Homo sapiens: one gene and its partner. The protein of the gene in region 1 purifies or fractionates together with the protein of each later gene. This does not show direct contact. Each region holds a gene or a part of one and is shown on either strand. Other genes may lie near its edges.

What was found. The genes of interacting proteins can lie anywhere in the genome.
Region 2: the proteins of LIPT1 (region 1) and UBR1 purify together in Homo sapiens (affinity purification with mass spectrometry; 3 studies listed by BioGRID and IntAct, with this or other methods). This does not show direct contact.

What each region holds. Positions count from the first base shown.
Region 1 is NC_000002.12:99,157,967-99,160,801, reverse strand, and holds part of LIPT1 (lipoyl amidotransferase LIPT1, mitochondrial precursor), read right to left. Parts: intron 2,506-2,835; exon of another isoform or gene 2,390-2,505; intron 1-2,389. UniProt on the Homo sapiens protein: Lipoyl amidotransferase that catalyzes the transfer of lipoyl moieties from lipoyl-protein H of the glycine cleavage system (lipoyl-GCSH) to E2 subunits of the pyruvate dehydrogenase complex (PDCE2).
Region 2 is NC_000015.10:43,057,539-43,061,038, reverse strand, and holds part of UBR1 (E3 ubiquitin-protein ligase UBR1), read left to right. Parts: intron 1-924; coding exon 925-987; intron 988-1,213; coding exon 1,214-1,337; intron 1,338-1,846; coding exon 1,847-1,954; intron 1,955-2,609; coding exon 2,610-2,698; intron 2,699-3,500. UniProt on the Homo sapiens protein: E3 ubiquitin-protein ligase which is a component of the N-end rule pathway. Recognizes and binds proteins bearing specific N-terminal residues that are destabilizing according to the N-end rule, leading to their ubiquitination and subsequent degradation.

The DNA.
Region 1 (2,835 bases):
CCTGTTTGACTTTGGGATATATGATTTACTGGCAGCATAACTTTTATTTAGATCAATATTAACTTAGGATGAACCCTTGAGGTCAGAGAGAGAGGCAACTGGGAGTATGCAGGTTTATATACAAAGGCTAAGAATAAATTCACTATGTTTGGATGCTTTCCACATTATTCATGTTACCATTGCTAATGAAATATTAGGCAGCAAAAGGTTGAAAATACTAGCTATGAAAATGAAGTATTTTGATTACTTATGGTCTTAAATCATTCTATTCCAATTCTATTTCTTAGAATATAATTTTCCTTCAGGTTGAAGAACTGGGAATAGAATGGATTATTAAAGTGTATAACTTGAGGTTAAGAGTTTGGTTCTAAATAAAGAAAGTTCATAACTAGGTAGCTAGGCTTTTTTATTTTTTATTTTTAAGACAGGGTATCACTCTGTAATTGTCTCACTGCAGCCTCGACCTCCTGGGCTCAAGCAATCTCCACATCTCAGCCTCTGAAGCAGCTGGGACTACAGGTATGCGCCACCATGCCTGGCTAATTTTTAAATTTTTTGTAGAGATGGGGGTCTCCCTACGTTGCCTAGGTTGATCTTGAACTCCTGGGCTTCAGTGATCCTCCTGCCTCAGCCTCCCAAAGTGCTGGGATTATAGGCATGGGCCACTACACCTGGCCCCAAATCATTTAGTTAAGTAATATCTTAGAAGTACAATTCTAGATTAAAGAGTCTTCATATTTTCATCACTCTTGTTGTAGTTTATAAACTAACCTACAAAAAGTTGAATCAGTTTACATTCTGTCTAGAAAGGTGTGGAGAGGTTTAATAGAGGAAGGAATACTTGAACTGAGTCACCAAATCTGATAAGTTTGCCAGGTCGAGGAGCATATTCCAGGCATATGCAAAGACAAAGAGTCATCTAATAGTAAGGTATGTTTGGGGATTCCCTCCTAAGAGAAAGAGTTACACTACTAGTCTTCGACTTCCACTTAAGCCTATGGCTATACTGTCCTAGGAAGCCTCGCAACCGAGACTGCATTACTTTGGTTAACCTCTTTGTTCTTGGTTCTGCTTGACTGACTTTGACACAGTACCATATTCATTCAACAAGTATTTATGGAGTTCCTACTAGGTACAAGGTAATAAGGAGATAGAAAATGGGAGGAGATAAATTCATGTAATGAACCAAAATATTTGGACTTTTTAAAAGGCAGCTAAGATCCACTGAAGTGTTAAGCAGGAAGTGTTAACTCAGCTGTTATACGAATCTGCCTCTGCAGGGTTGAGTATGGATTAAATAAAGGATGGACTAGGGACAGGGGGAACAGTTAATGGACTAAGGCAGTTGTCCATGCTAGAGATAATGAGGGCCTAAAGTACGGTAGGAGAGAGAGAGAGAGAGAAGGGGATGGATATGAGTGACATTAAGAAGGTGAACTGGCCGGGCGCAGTGGCTCATGCCTGTAATCCCAGGACTCTGGGAGGCCGAGGCAGGCGGATCACGAGGTCAGGAGATCGAGACCATCCTGGCTAACACAGTGAAACCCCGTCTCTACTAAAAATACAAAAAATTAGCCGGGCATGGTGGCAGGTGCCTGTAGTACCAGCAGCTCTGGGAGGCCGAGGCAGGCGGATCACGAGGTCAGGAGATTGAGACCATCCTGGCTAACACAGTGAAACCCCGTCTCTACTAAAAATACAAAAAATTAGCCGGGCATGGTGGCGGGCGCCTGTAGTCCCAGCAGCTCTGGAGGCTGAGGCAGAAGAGTGGTGTGAACCCGGGAGGCGGAGCTTGCAGTGAGCCGAGATCGTGCCACTACACTCCAGCCTGGGCGACAGAGCAAGACTCCGTCTAAAAGAAAAAAAAAGAAAAGAAGGTGAACCTGTCCTTGCCTTCAAGAAACAAGTACCTCCACAATCTAGTGGGAGATACTAAAAAACAAGTAAGGCAATAATTAAAATACAGTGTCCTAAATGCTGTGATAGGTGTTAAGTACAGTAGAGCGCCATCTAATGCTCTAATTAGTGGATGTGACATTGAAGCTGAGACATAAAAGGGATAAAGAAAAGAATTCTAACAATGTGCAACAGCTTAGTGGAAAAGGAGATAGGACCCATGCAAATAATTTAATTCTACTGGCTGGTTATTAGGAATACAAGAATGGGGAGTTAATAAGAAGGCAAGAGAAGTAGATGTTAGATTATAAAGAACCTTAAATCCAAGTGAAATGCTTGAACTTTATTGCCCAGGATGGAGTGCAGTGGTGTGATCACGGCTCACTGCAGCCCCGACCTCCTGGGCTCAAGCAATCCTCCCCCTTTAGCCAGCATGTGCCACCACGCCTGGCTATTTTTTTTTTTTTTTTTTTTTTGTAGAGATGAATCTCACTTTGTTGTCCAGGCTGGTCTCAAACTCCTGGGCTCAAGCAGTCCTCCTGCCTTGGCCTCCTAAAGCACTCGGATTACAGGCATGAAGGCTTTGGATTTATACTTCAGGGACACCGCCTAGAGATTTTAAGCATGGAGAATGTACAATACTTGGCAATAGGTTGAATTAGGGTGAGAGAAAGAGAAGTCAAGCATCATGTCCTTTATGATATAATGATTACAAGCTCAAACCAGAGTGCCCTCATTCAAATCCCAACTCTATCCTTTATCAGTTGAATGACCTAAGGCAGATTACTTTTCTATGTCTCAGATTTGTTATCTAATATGTGGATAATGACAGGACTCATCTCATATTATCAGGCTGAGTCTGATGAGCTAATACATATAAAGTGGTTAGAAGAGTGCCTGGCACTGAAGAAAGTACACAATATGTGCTAACTATTTTAT
Region 2 (3,500 bases), on another chromosome or scaffold:
AAGCTGATTGAGCTCGAGTTTATGTAACTATTCTTGTCCAATCTGTTCTTTTAACAATCTCTTATGGCCTGGCTTTTTGTGCTTTTTTTTTTTTTTTCTGTAATGGCAACCTTACTGGTGTAATTAGTAGTCCAAATATATTTGGATAGTTCTTATGCTTATGTACTAAGCAGCTAAAGAGGGAATATTACAGGATGGTTAAAAGTACAGACTCTGGAGATGAAATGCTTGTCATGGATCTCTGAATCTGTCACTTGCTAACTTTCTGATTGGGGGACAAATTAACTTCTGTCTTATTTTTCTTTTTATCATCTGTAAAATGTGGTATACCTTCTTCATAGGGTCATTGTAAAGGTTAAATGAGGAAGACAGTGCTTCCTGACTTTTTTCACATGGCACATATAGAAAATGATGAATTTTTACAGGTGGGTAAAAGAATGAGCTACAAGGAAATCCTACATAGACCTTGCATGACCGCCTCCAGGACTGGTGGAATCAGTAGTCCAGCTATACTTCCCGCTCGTTAATGGGCCACAAGTATATCATAGGATACATGTTGAAGAGCTGTGAATTCATTCATGAAAAATATTTTAAATACATAGCAGAAGTTTAGAAAGCCTGAGTCATTGTTTCATATAAGTAGAGAGGACACTGCAGTAACTAAAGAACTGCCATTCCTGCCAGGCAAGAAACTCAGCATCTTAAACTATAGACTGTCTGTCCTAGAGGTATTAAAGTTTTCATACTTCATAAAGGTGTTAAACATTTGCATCTGTCTTTCAGATATTGTTCCGGTATCTTACAACTTTTAGTCAACACGCGATTAGAGCTCAGTTAAGAGCTCATTAAGTCTTTGGGCTACATATTGCTTATTGATTGTGGTTATCATTTCACTACCTAATTCTCACTTTTGTCTATAATTAGGGTCGTCGGGCTGTTAAAGCGGGAGCTTATGCTGCTTGCCAGGAAGCAAAGGAAGATATAAAGGTAACTTTCTGAATTAGGGGGAAAAAGAGAAGTTAAAGATGAATGTACATTACAAGAGCCCAAGTAGAATAATTTGAGTGATGATGTCGTTGAAGTGGTTTGGGGCACCTAGATGCAGAGATTTGGAACTGGCAGGGTTATGTGATTTCTTCATTTGAAGTATAAATCCCTTAACTAAAAGCAAATTTTAAATGCTATTTTTTTGGTTCGTTCCCTTCATTTGTAGAGTCATTCAGAAAATGTCTCTCAACATCCACTTCATGTAGAAGTATTACACTCAGAGATTATGGCTCATCAGAAATTTGCTTTGCGTCTTGGTTCCTGGATGAACAAAATTATGAGCTATTCAAGTAAGCATACCTCCTGTTTTTCTTGTTTCTGATAAAATACTATGTGTTTTATAGCCACAAATTTTAAAATGTCATTGAGTATGAAATAAAGTTTTTCTTTTTTTTTTTTTTTTGGTTTATACACTTTGATTAATTTTCAGGGTTGCATTTCAAATGTATAATATCTTAGGATATTATTTCAAGTGCATAGTATCAAATAATATCTTTTTATTGGCTGTTGAGTCTTTGATGTTGACAGAATTATTCTTTGCCTCAAATGTGGGAGGATTAATATTATTCTTTTCACATGTTATAGGAAATGTACTTTTAGGAGAAATGTTATAAGAATAAAAATTATGGCTGAGTACAGGGGCTCATGTCTGTAATGCCAGCACTGTGAGAGGCTGAGGTGGAAGGATCGCTTGAGCCCAGGAGTTCAAGACCAACCTGGGCAACAGAGTGAGACTCATCTCTATTTAAAAAGAAAAAGAATACAAGTTGTGTAACTGTGTGACCTCTTTTGTTTGTAGGTGACTTTAGGCAGATCTTTTGCCAAGCATGCCTTAGAGAAGAACCTGACTCGGAGAATCCCTGTCTCATAAGCAGGTTAATGCTTTGGGATGCAAAGCTTTATAAAGGTAAGTAGACATTTGCTTATGCTGTTTGTCAGGAAGCAAAGGAAGATTATGACCTTAAAGTGGAGCTGTAATATCTTTTGTTTATTAAATTAGTTATTAAATCTGTAATCTTGATTGATAAGATACTACATGTGAATATAAAGTTTAACCAGTCAGTATGTATTCTTTGGTGTTAAAACCCAGGGATGTTGTCTTTTAATTATAGAGTCTTTTCATTTAGTGAGAGCCAGTCAAAAAGAGTATATATGTATGTGTCTATACATGTATCTATATATTCAGGTAGTAGTGCCATTATCGAGTAGCGAAAAAGATGCTATTTTCATTGTAAAAATCTAAATGAAGAACAAAACGTAAAAGGCTAAAAGCATGGAGAAGGAAAAGTACAGTGAAATAGAAAAAGAATGAAAAGGTTGGGAGAGAGTAAATTGAAGTGTAAGATGAAGTGGTGGGAGGGGTGCAGAAAAAGAGGGAAAAGGCAATATATGTGTGTATTTTAAATTCCAGTTATTAAATATTAATACAATAAATACTATTTGAGGTCTGTTTGCATGTGAAGTAATTTTATAATATTCTGCCACTCTAATAGCCAGAATGTTTTTGGTTTTTGCCTTGGTGATTCTCCTCATTCCCCCACCCTCCCCAAAATAATCTATAGGTGCCCGTAAGATCCTTCATGAATTGATCTTCAGCAGTTTTTTTATGGAGATGGAATACAAAAAACTCTTTGCTATGGAATTTGTGAAGGTAATTATTTATAAATTAGATATCAATAAATAGAAATAGGCAGTTTTTATAAATGAATTAATAGAAACAGGGATAATTATGAATCAAAAATTAAATGTTATGATTTATTTCTTTGTCAAAAGTTTGTTCTTGGCCCTGCGGGTTGGCTCACGCCTGTAATCCCAGCACTTTGGGAGGCTGAGGTGGGTGGATCATTTGAAGTCAGGAGCTCGAGACCAGCCTGGCCAACACGGTGAAACCCCGTCTCTACTACAAATACAAAAATTAGCCAGGCATGGTGGCAGGTGCCTGTAGTCCCAGCTACTCAGGAGGCTGAGGCAGGAAAATCACTTGAACCTGAGAGGCAGAGGTTGCAGTGAGCCAAGATCGCGCCACTGCCCTCTAGTCTGGGCAACAGAGTGAGACTCCCATCTCAAAAAAAAAAAAAAAGTTCGTTCTCATACGTTATATAAATATTTTCACAAATGTTATTTGCTAGTATAGAAACAGCATTCTTAGAGAAGAGATAGGTGGAAAATGACCCACTGACCCAGAGCAAAGGGAGGTTATCACATTCACATATGCATTCAGTCTTCCTAATCATTTATTTGCCTGTTAGTAAAATTACAATAAGAATAGAAGTGACTAATTGAAAAGTATAGCAGGAAAGAAGAACAGATGTGTATGCTAAAGTGGGGGGCAGGAATTAGGTGGCCAAGAGTTCTACTTAGTTTTTGGAAGCTAAAGCATAAGGCTAAAATTTACAGCTTTTTAATGTTTTATTAATCTATCGTGTATCTCTTACCTTACTGTATCTTTTTGT